Homo sapiens: one gene and its partners. The protein of the gene in region 1 purifies or fractionates together with the protein of each later gene. This does not show direct contact. Each region holds a gene or a part of one and is shown on either strand. Other genes may lie near its edges. The genes, in order: RNF103, HADH and PEPD.

Region 1 (3,500 bases):
TCTGATTCTGTATTAGCTGAGAAATGGTGAAGAGATACATACAAGCTAGCTCCAGATGTTTTCCTCTAAATCCTTCATCTTCAAATAATCCTACCTCTTATTTACAATTGAAGCAATGTTTTTTTGGATAACTTTTTGCTTTTTTGTTGATTGTAGCTATAGTTTTTGTTATTTAAAAAAGTACTTCTACTCAGCTTCATCAGAAAATGATTTTGTTGCACAGTGACTTGTACCAGTTCCAATAATGTGCCCATGACTCCTCATTTGGAAAGTCCTCCAACTGGAATAAGAATTGTTCTTGCCATAGAAGCTATGCTTAGTCAGGGTCATTTTTCTTTTCTTTTGATGACTATGGAGATATAGAAGAACAAAATTTAGAGATATAGAGAAGAGTGTTCAGAATTTCAATGCAGGGTGTAAGTGGGCAGAGAATAGTGTTATTCAGGAAGTGTTTTAATCACATATTTTGAATAATTGAGTCATCATCTTGATTTTGGAGTTTTAAAAATACCAAAACTCTGTGCCCCACTGTCTATGCTGCATTCTTTGACTGTAGTCCCTTCTCTGGGGTGGCCTCTGGGCAGCTGACTTCAGTGTGCTGGTCCCACTGTACAGCTGTACTTTCCTGACCTGTTTAGCTCCTGCCTTAGTCTGTTTTGTGTTGCTGTATAAGAATACCTGAGGCTGAGTGGTGGCTCACGCCTGTAATCCCAGCACTTTGGGAGGCTGAGGCAGGTAGATCACCGGAGGTAAGGAGTTGGAGACCAGCCTGGCCAACATGGTGAAACCTGTCTCTACTAAAAATACAAAAATTAGCCAGGCGTGGTGGCGGGTGCCTGTAATCCCAGCTACTCGGGAGACTGAGGCAAGAGAATCACCTGAACCCAGGAGGTGGAGGTTGCAGTGAGCCGAGATTGCACCACTGCACTCCAAGCCTGGGTGACAAGAGCGAGACTCTGTCTCAAAAAAAAAAAAAAAAAATACCTGAGGCTGAGTAATTTATGAAGAAAATAGATTTATTTAGCTCACTGTTCTGCAGGCTGTATAAGAACCATGGTGCCAGCATCTGCTCAGCTTCTGGTGAGGCTTCTGTGCTGCCAGAACATGGTAGAGAAGGTCAAAGGGGAAGTGGACACATGTGAAGGGCATGTGGCTTTATGTCAGCCCACTCTCGAGGAAACTACTCCATTTCCACAAGAACTAATTCAGTCTTGCCAAAGCTAGAACTCACTAACTTGAGAGCAGCACTAAGTGTTCATGAGGGATCCACCTCCATGACCCAGACACCTCCCACTAGGCCTCACCTCTCAACACTGCCACACTGGGAAGAAAATGTCAACATGAGGTTTGGTGGGGACAGACAAACCATAACCAAACCAGAGTAGCTCCCTTAAGAACATTTAGGACTACCACTTCTGAGCAACTTCTGACTGTCTAGTTGTAGCAGCTTTAATTTCTTTCCCTATGTACCCAGAAGGAGTGGCCTTGCCTGGCTCTACCTCTTCTCATTCCCTAACCAGCAGATCGATTTCAGAGGGCTTTTCCTGTGAGGTTCATACTCTGTACTTTTTTTGACAAAGTAGGAGATGAGGTGGTAATGATGTGTAGAGAGGGTTGGGGAGATGGGGATTAGTAAAGAGAAGATAGAGGACATGGAAATTGCAGGAGCTGAGTGGTAAACAGGAAGCCTTATGGCAAGAGTGTCAGGGATGGTGGCCTGTGGAAAAAACGGGGAAGGAGAAGAGAAGGGGGGATTGCAGAGAGAGCGAGGAAAACCAAGGAGGCCAATGACCTTGTCTGAAAAAACAGCATATATAAACAGAAATGTTAAGGTTTCTCTCTCTTCCTTTCTTCCTTTTTTTTTTTTTTTTTTTTTTTTGAGATGGAGTCTCACTCTATTGCCCAGGCTGGAGTACAGTGGCACGATCTCAACTCACTGCAACCTCAGCCTACTGGGTTCAGGCGATTCTTGTGTCTCAGCCCCCCAAGTAGCTGGGATTACAGGTGCGTGCCACCATGCCCAGCTAATTTTTGTATTTTCAGTAGAGACAGCGTTTCACCATGTTGGCCAGACTGTTCTCAAACTCCTGGCCTCAAGTGATCCACCCACCTTGGCCTCCCAAAGTGCTGGGATTACAGGTGTGAGCCACTGAGCCCTGCTTCTTCTTAAATATAGCATGCCACATCAGCAACTGGAAGACCAAAACTCACAAGGCATATTTCCTATCGTTTTTAGTCTTAAAATTCTCTAAGAGAACTCAAAAGGTTTAGTTTAAAAACTAGAGGATATTTTCATGGTATTGTCATTGAATTTGTTCAGATCATAAAAAAATTTTTTTTGAATTGGCAATAAAAGTTTTTATATTGATGTAAGGTAATACAACCTTATTCTATCTGGAATGATAAAATTATTACTTAGCTCTGAGCTGAAAAGAAAGCACATAATATGTTTGTTTTCTTATGTGAAGAAATGTCTGCACTTAGAACTTGTTCATTTTACAAAGTAAGTTTTCTGTCAGAAAGGCTGTCATTTAATTTATGACACAAATCAGAGGCCATAGTAGGAAGATAAAATAGATGGCCAAGAGTTGAAATGTGTCATCACAAATATCAAGTGCAATGAAAACATTAAAGATACTTGAAGATATTTAAGATATAAATAAGACAGTTGTCCATATGCATTTGACTTGTTACTTTTTTGGGATACGGTAAAAATAGAATTCATGTCAATCAATGAATTATTATTTTGCATTGAGTAGAAGATATTTATTTTGTAGGAATATATACTTTTCAGACCATTTCAGTTAAAACAGTAATGATATTAATGGAATCTGTCTTATTAAGGTAGTGAATCAACTCAACAAGAAGCTAAGAGTCACAGTCTGTGATTTTGAGTCACCTAGACAGTTTTCCAGAGTCATCACTAACCTTGTCTTAAGACATAGCGTGTTGTCTTCATTTATCTTAAACTATATCACAGAATCCCTGAGATAAAATTAGTCATATTATCATTATACAGCCATATGCTACCTACGTCAAGACTCTTCTCTTCATCTGATCATATGATGTGTAATATGTTTATTTAATAAAATATAATCCATGCTAAGTAAAGCATAACATCTATGACTTTTACATCAATATTCTGAGTAGCAAAATGCGAAGTCAGATATTTATTACTATGCATATACAAATCTGTAACAAATAAAACGTTTCCATGTGGTAGATTGTCTTTTTTACAACTTTATTGAGGTAAATTTTACTTAAAAATTTCACATGGTAGGTTTTGGAAAAAAAAATACTTTTTAAAAACAAAAGATTAACTCTTCTGTGTGGTACATGAAAAACTAACTAAAACCAAAAACAAAAGGCAGCCTGGGCGACATGGTGAGACCCCAACTCTACAAAAAATTCTTTTAAAACTTAGCCTAGCATGGTGGCGTGCATATGTGGTCCTAGCTACTCAAGGAGGCTGAGGCAGGAGAATCGCTTGAGCCCAGGAG
Region 2 (3,722 bases), on another chromosome or scaffold:
GCATATGTCAAGCACTTACACAGTGTCTGGCATGTAATAAGAGTTCACAGAAAGTTAGCTGCCTTTATAATAATTATCTTCGGCCCGGCATGGTGGCTCAAGCCTGTAATCCCAGCACTTTGGGAGGCTGAGGGGGGCAGATCATCTGAGGTCAGGAGTTCAAGACCAGCCTGGCCAATATGGTGAAACCCTGTCTCTACTAAAAATACAAAAAAATTAGCCAGCATGGTGGCATGTGCCTGTGGTCCCACCTACTTGGAAGGCTGTGGCAGAATAGTCTCTTGAACCTGAGAGGTGGAGGTTGCAGTGAGCCGAGATCGCACCACTGCACTGTAGCCTGGGCAACAGAGCGAGACTCCGTCTCAAAAAGATAAATAAAAAGAATAATCATCATCTTCATTGCAGTTGTCCTGTCCTTTTGCCCTTTTCCCCTCATATCCACTCCCATCCTGATCACAGCTGCTGAGGTAGGCCTGTAAGGTTTAGATGGAGAATATTGGTCATGATTCCCTGTTTCATCTTGCTTAATCTTGAATGCATATACCCGCTGATGCTGCAGCGGGTATGTTTTTTCAGGGACCTCTGAAAGGAGGGAGAACACTTTTTAGTTACCCCCCATTTTATTGTTAAACTTTAGTAAAGCCATAAAAGTACAATCACAAACTAGTATTGAGGTTATGTTACTGATTTTCATTAGCTTAATTTTCTTGAACTTTCTGACGTGGTTTTAATGTTAGTCAAGGTGCAGTTCTGCTTATAATTTTAATAGTTTTGTCATTTTAAACACGTCAGTTTGTGCTCAGAAGGATGAAAAAATATTTAAATAGATTTTGTGGGAGCCTGATGCATTTCTCAAGCAATTAAGCAATTTAAGACAAGTTCAGTGCTTAATTACATTTGATCAGAGCACAGGCCATTTGTACATGTGTATTTTCCGAGAGTATCTACTTTGCCTGTCATTTCTTTTGTTTGTTTTAAATTAAAAAAACAAAAAATCCCTTAGACTGCAGGTTAATATTTGAAGTTAACTTGTTTCATGTGTTTGCTTATTACACACTTCTGACTTGGTTTTGATTGCTAATTTATCTTCACTGGATACTTAGGCCAATAAAGAAGCTTATAGGATTAAATGAGCCTTGAGTGGGGGACAGGTTGTTTTTTTGCTTTATAAAGAGGAAAACAAGAAAGGAAGAAAGCTGGTAGCTGTGTGCATTTCTCCAGTATTGAATCCTTTCTAGGCTTTGCTTCATACATTGGGTTTTTTCATATGAGGAGCCCAGAGAGAATGCATAGCTTTCATTAGATTACTTGTGAGGAGCCAGTGGGCTCCCTGGGAACGGGGCACTTCAGATGTCCCCCTTGAGACACTTTACATGCTCTCCGGGTGCAACCTTCTTTTTAGTGCACTACTCTTCTTTGAGGAAGTGAGAAAGTTTGCATCTTAAAGGGGGTTGGGGATAGGTTCTTCTCTCCCAAAGCTTGCTTTTTTTTTTTCCTCCTTTTTAAAAAGCAGAAAGTGCATATTTTTTCTAGAGAGAGCTTCTTTGGCTATTAAAAACAAAGTAAGGGCAGGGAGAGCCTGCTACGTTGCAGGGATTTTGTGTGACTCTACCATGCTTGATAAGGATTCAGGTAGACCTGAAAGCTTCTCCCCAGCCACTGGATTTGTTCTCTCATCTCTTCTTCTTGCCCCCAAATCTGCATTTTCTGATGCTGAAAAAGAGAATGATCAGAGTTGTTTCATATTTTTTTAGCTTTATTCTCTTCTACTGTGAGTACAGCTCTGTTGAGCTGTACAGTACAGTACTGCTTTGCTTGCAAAGCAGTACAGATGCCTAGGAGAAGTTTCAGGATCACAGGAGACCAGCAGTTACCTGGCTGTAAGCTCTCCTTTTGACTGTTCCTTATGGAGGGAATATTTGTACTCCCAGTTGTTACCTTCCTGCTGAAGGACATGAGATGTGTCTGTTTGTTATGAAGTTTTCCCCCTACTTCCCGAGTTGTTGCTTATCTTTGTTGGGCTGTTCTCTGCTCTTGGTTGAGGTACTGGGATGTAGAACCACCCTCTATTAGCATATTAGTTATTGGACTCTGGGTGAGGTTGGAGATACTGTCATTCCTAGAGGGTAGAAGAGGTAGGGCTCACAGGCAACAGAAAATAATGCTATGGGATATGTTTGGACATTTTTTAGAGCAGAAATGGCACTTCAGTCAGTCAGGTTTTGGCATTTTCCTGCCATGTTCTGCCTCCAGCTTTAATCACTTGCCCCTTGCTTGAGTTTCTTCTTTCTTCCCCTCTCCCTTCTCTCTTATCTGTGGTAGGCACACACACCTCACTCTCTAGTTCTCCTGGGACCACAGGAAGATAATGTGGATGTTCTCTGTGGCTCCCCCTGTTATATTCATGATGTTATTATTTCTGGTAGTGGTATTCTAATCTCAAAAGTACAGGCTATGAGGTCCCTGCCAGGGTTTAGATGCTAGCCTTCCTATCCTGCCTTTAGGAACCTTGGGCAAATCACTTAACTCCTCTCTGCCTCTTTACTTACCTGGGAATAATGAGACTCACCTGACAGCTGTGAAAGTTAAATGAACTAATATACAAGCTCCTAGAATAGCATTAGTGTGTTTGATAGTAACTGTCTGATAAATATTAGCTGCTTTCACATAGACCCATCAGACCTGATCTAGTGAGGATTTCTCTTAGATTGTCTTCACTGTCGGAAGAGTTTTGATATAGGGAGTTCCAGCAATTCTAAAGATGTTAAGACTTATTTATGTGGGTTGTTGAGAAAGATAGTGTACCATTTACTGGTTTTTGTAGAGCTAAAACCACTCTACAAAATATGACACTTTATTCTGTTCAAAGAATTTTGATTTATTTAATTTCATGTGACCATTACAATAATCACCCCTGCAGAGATGGTTCCTGGGGTCAATGGTCAGAGGCAGAGCTGGGGTTAGAACTTGAGTTCTCTTCTGTTCTGCTGCCTGTAAATCCCCAAGCCTGAATTCAGTTCTGCCTGCACCTCTGGCAAGTGCTGTATTGTGGGGAGAAGTGTGGCATCCATGGCAGGGGATCCTCTGTGGCTCTCTGGAATCAGTACATCCCAGGTTGACGTCTCCTTGGCTCTGGACTCAAAGTTAGTCTACCTGCTGGTCGTCTACATCAGGGTGCTGTGCTGCCATCCTTCTGCCCATGGTAGACTCAAACTCACCTGCCAAGATCTAATTCATTATTTCCCCTCCAGCTTTTTCCAGAGAGCTTGCCCCTCCTGTTGCTGCAGTTGTTCTTCCAGCCACATGTACTCTGAAGATGGGATCACAATCAGTGTCTCCATACCAGAAAAGGCTCTGTAACTTTTTGGTCATGGGAGAGCTCTTTCCTCTGCCCTCTCCTTTGCAGTTCCTAGACCAGGTGTGTTAACCTGAATTGTCATGGGAGCCTCTTAATTGGTCCTTTCAGCAAAAACTAAAAGAAAAAACCCACTCATCATGGCAAACATTGTCATATTAGTCTTCCTGGAGAGGCATTTGGATTTATAACTCTCCTCTACCCGGAAAGTGTCCATCATAGCAACATCTTCCAGGGATTCTTAAATATAACGATGCTGTTGACATGTCTGGTTATCCCTTTACCTTTTCAGAATTTGTGGGAGGTGAGAAGTCTGGGAGAGGTTATCTGGGTTATTATGAAACCTACACACTTACTGAATTAAAAA
Region 3 (4,330 bases), on another chromosome or scaffold:
CCTGACAGATGAGGACAGCAGGGATGGTACTGGGCTTCCAGGTAACTGTGCCACGTGCCCTTCACTACCCTGCTTATGGCTGGCTCCCTTGCTCCTATTTAAGGGGCCTATTCTCCTCCCTGCTTCATGGGGACAAACAGAAGCTGCTTCTCCAGTCATAGCCCCTGGCTCCCACCAGCCTGGCCATGGTGACCCACATCCTTGTTTCGATAAAGAAACAAGAAGCATCCCCCAACCCACAACCTTTGATCAGAAGCCACTTCCAGCTGTGGGACAGCTGCAGGGTGGGGTCAGGAGCCCCACACGCCTATCCTGGGCCACCCATCCACCTGTCCACACACATCTGTACACCACACACATCTGTACACCCTTGGCGCCAGGGACGCCCTCCCCCAACAGTGTGGGGCCCCCTTCCTTCACAGGGGCAGTGAGGTCACTCCTCAGGGTATGGCTTCATGAGCTCAGCCTCTGTGTGAGCACTCTCTGGCCTCAGTTTCCTCATCTGTATAATAGACTTAAAGATAGTCTCGACCTCATAGGGCTGTGGTGAGGTTTCTATGAGCTCACATGTGCAACGCATTTGGGCCGTGCTTGTAATGCCCTGACTCTGTTGGCAGTAGGGAGGGCAGCGTCTGCTGCAGGGTCCCTACACCTTCTCTGCAGGACTCTGCACCCAGTACCAGTGCCCAGTGGGGCAGAGGAGTAAGCCTTCTGGCAGACTCTCCCTCCTAAACCCTTCTCGGCTGTGCCCACTTCTCGCCTGCCCTCCTCCCTGGCTTCCCTTCCTCCAGCTTCTCCATTCTGCAGCCCAGGAAACCTAGAAAAGATCCTACCAGACTTAACTCATAGGCCCCACAGTGGAGGCCCCGCAGGGTCTGGCCCTTGCTTCCCTTAGGCTGCCCCTCTCTCGCGCACATTCTCCTGGACGCTGCACATTTAGAGTCCTCCAGTTGCCCCACGGCCTTTGCTCAAGCCCTTTCCCTTCTTAAACAAAAATCGCCACCTCTGCCCCGACCCTAGCCTGGGTCAGTCTCCCTCCTCTCCTCCCACGTGGTTTCTTTATTCCTATGTGTTCTTCTCCCGGGTGGGCTGGTACGCCAGATCGGGGACTGAACCAGAATCAAGATGTCCTCTGCTTCAGGACCTCCCTCCCACCACGAAAAGGCTGCAGATGCTGCCCGCTAACCCGACCTACTGTCTGCAGCCGGCAGCCCGCTCATTTATCCTGGCCGAGCTCTTGGGCCCCCAATCTCCGGGAGCCCCGCCCCATCGGGGCTCCGCCCTTCCCCAGGTACCGCCCCTTCCCGTCCCGTGGAATTTGGCTCTGGAGGAGGTGGGTCAAGGACTCCATGCCCCGCCCCCTGCCCCGCCCTTACCCCGCCCCATGCATTGGCACCCGGAGGGGCTCAGCTGACGCCGCACTTCACGTGACGCCGGTGCCGGGCGAACATGGCGGCGGCCACCGGGTGAGTGCTGCGCCTCCCTCGCTCTTTCCCGCTGGCGTGGAGAGGGGCATGGGTGTCCCGGCCGGACCGCGGGTGAGAGCGTCAGCCGGGGTCGCTGAATGCCGCGGGTAGGCGCCTCTTCCCGTTGGCCCGGAGTCCCAGCGCCGGTCGGCGAGCTGCACGCTCCGAGTCAGGGTCAGCGCGGGGGCCGCAGCTCCTCTCCACCCTCCTGGCTGGCTCCGGCCCCACCTGCCCGCGTCTGGCGGCCCCACCGTGTGCGGCTGCGGTGGGGGCTGGGGTCGACACGCATGTTCGCTGCCAAGACCCCCGGGTAGGAGGGCGGCGTTGCGAGGACCCCAGGGACCCGGGCGCTTCCCGGAGGAGGCGGTATTCGAGACGGACTTGGAATTCCCTTTTCCCAGCAGGGCACTTCCCCATTTCTTTCAGGGGCCAAATGTCACCCCCTCAGGGAATCCTTCTCTAACCATCTATCCCACTTTTTGTGCCCTCATCATCACCTGATAAACTATATAGAGCATTGTTTGTACTTGTTCTTTATCTTCTCTGCATTTAGAGTGCAAGGGCAGGTATGTTACCTGCTTCTCAGTAGCCCGGTGCCTTGCACACAGTAGGTGCTCCATACTGGGCTAAATGAAAGAAAGCTGAGTGGTCGTAGTGGGAGGAAGGGTGGACAGATGGGTTCACCAGAGCGTTGGGCGGAATCTCCCAGATAGGGAGCATCTGAGCCCAGGGTAAGGGACAAAGGTTGAGAGTTCAGAGTGTTCTGGGGACAGGGGTGCATGCCTGGGGCTGGTTGGAAGGTGTGGTGTTCCAGGTGGCGGCTTCAGACTTTGCCCTGATGGGCTGGAAGGGTTTTGTTACAAGCTGCTTGATCTGTTTTTTAAAGATTAGGCTCCCCTGAGCTATGTGTGAGTTCAATGGGAGAAGGTGTGGGTCTGGTGGTACAGTGGGGTAGAGGGGGCATGGTGTAGGAGGGAGCAGTATTCCAGATGCCAGGTTGGAAACTGAGGTCAGAATGGGGGATCTAGTGGACTGAATGCATCTCTCTTTTTAAGATACAGGGAAAATGGCAACAGAAAGTGGGTTCTAAGTTGGCCCCCAAGGTTGAGGGAGCTTAGAGCATACAAATCAAATATTTTGTGGGCACCTGCTATATTCCAGGAATAGCAGTGGGTCTTCCCTTAAGGTACTCACAGGCCACTGGAACAGATGGACACATGGGACTCTGTCATCCATCTGCTTGCCGTGTGGTCTTGCCATTTGCAAAGGAGGGGCATGGACTCTGAGCTCAGATAAAGTGTGGGAAGGCTTCACTTCCTGGGTGACTTTTGTGCTAGTCCTTCAGCAATGAGACTCCCTTCAGGTAGAGAACAGTGCAGACAAAGTCTCAGATGGGTGTCAAGGAACTCAGGGTCAGATCCTTGAATCCAGCCTGTGACCCTTTTAAAGGGTAGACTGAGCAGGCTGGTGCCCAGCTGTGGGTGTGCTGTCTCTCTGGTTAGGCTGGCTCGGTGCTCACAGGGAGTGCCAGGGGTTGCATTTGGGTTCAGGATTCCAAGCTGGCCTGAGACCTGCTGCTCTCCTGAAGGAACCAAGCTGATGTCTGGACGGGAGCAAGTCTGGAACTGACTGGATCCTGGAATGAGAGCTTTTCTTTTTCTCTTTCTTTTTTTTTTTTTGAGACGTAGTTTTGCTCTTGTTGCCCAGTCTGGAGTGCAATGGCATGATGGCTCACTGCAACCTCCACCTCCCAGGTTCAAGCGAGTCTTCTGCCTCAGCCTCCTGAGTAGCTGGAATTACAGGCGTGTGCCACCACACTCAGCTAATTTTTTGTATTTTTAGTGGAGATGGGGTTTCACCATGTTGGCCAGACTGGTCTCGAACTCCTGACCTCAGGTGATCCACCCGCCTCCGCCTCCCAAAGTGCTAGGATTACAGGTGTGAGCCACCACGCCTGGCCCCAGAATGAGAGCTTTTCTAGCAGAACCGATTCTCTGGGCCACCACACAGGGTGGGTGAGGGAGGCAAAACAGAGTGGCAGGTCTTAGAGAGGTCTGCTATTGAGAGGGTGTGGGAGCTTCCAGAGCCTGGCAGTCTCCTTGGGAAGAGCCATCCCAGTCTGGTATGGGGCTTTCCCATGTACTTTGAGCCTGAGGTTGACCCCAGTGGCTTCCTTTAGAGCAGAATGATTAAGTGTGTTTCCCGCAAAGCTCAGCTCCTAGCCACACTCACAGAACAGATCATAGAGTCAGGCATAACGAGGCATGATGCCAGCAAGTCACGGCCATTGCCGTGGGCTCACTGGGAGTTGGGTTTGGTTGTCTGTAGAATCCTACCAGAGCCTGGGACAGAGGGGGTCCATGAGAGTTCCAGGTGACTGGGGTGTGCCCCATATGATTTGGGGAGTAGGGGAAGCCCTAAACTAGCATCTCAGATTTAATTTGAAACTCAAGAATCTACTCTGAATGCATCTCTCTTTTTAAGATGTGGGGTGTTTCAGGGTTGATCCTACTTTCTCTTGCTAGCCTGGGTGTAGGCTTCAGGTTGAGACAGAGTGCGCTGAGGTCACCTCCCATCCCCTCATGGAGAGGGGTCCCTATCCCATGGCACTTGGTGGCACTGCTGCTGTCTCCTTAAGCAATGCTTTGAGCTTTCCACAGACAGGATTGATAATTTGAAATCTGTCAGCTCCAGCCAGACCTGTCTGCATCTGCTCTCCCACATGGCTTTTTCCATTCCCTTCTTCCCTTGCACACTCACCCAACTAGCCCTGGAATGTTCTTGTCCTCTATATGATTCTTCACGTATTTGCAGGCCCAGCTCAGATGGTTCCCTTTCCCAGAAGCCTTTCCCAGCCCTCGGGT

What was found.
Region 2: the proteins of RNF103 (region 1) and HADH purify together in Homo sapiens (affinity purification with mass spectrometry, with the first as the bait; one large-scale study listed by BioGRID). This does not show direct contact.
Region 3: the proteins of RNF103 (region 1) and PEPD purify together in Homo sapiens (affinity purification with mass spectrometry, with the first as the bait; one large-scale study listed by BioGRID). This does not show direct contact.

Annotation. Positions count from the first base shown.
Region 1 is NC_000002.12:86,606,866-86,610,365, reverse strand, and holds part of RNF103 (E3 ubiquitin-protein ligase RNF103), read left to right. Parts: intron 1-3,500. UniProt on the Homo sapiens protein: Acts as an E2-dependent E3 ubiquitin-protein ligase, probably involved in the ER-associated protein degradation pathway.
Region 2 is NC_000004.12:107,992,752-107,996,473, forward strand, and holds part of HADH (hydroxyacyl-coenzyme A dehydrogenase, mitochondrial isoform 2 precursor), read left to right. Parts: intron 1-3,722. UniProt on the Homo sapiens protein: Mitochondrial fatty acid beta-oxidation enzyme that catalyzes the third step of the beta-oxidation cycle for medium and short-chain 3-hydroxy fatty acyl-CoAs (C4 to C10).
Region 3 is NC_000019.10:33,518,880-33,523,209, reverse strand, and holds the start of PEPD (xaa-Pro dipeptidase), read left to right. Parts: upstream 1-1,418; 5' UTR 1,419-1,449; coding exon 1,450-1,466; intron 1,467-4,330. UniProt on the Homo sapiens protein: Dipeptidase that catalyzes the hydrolysis of dipeptides with a prolyl (Xaa-Pro) or hydroxyprolyl residue in the C-terminal position.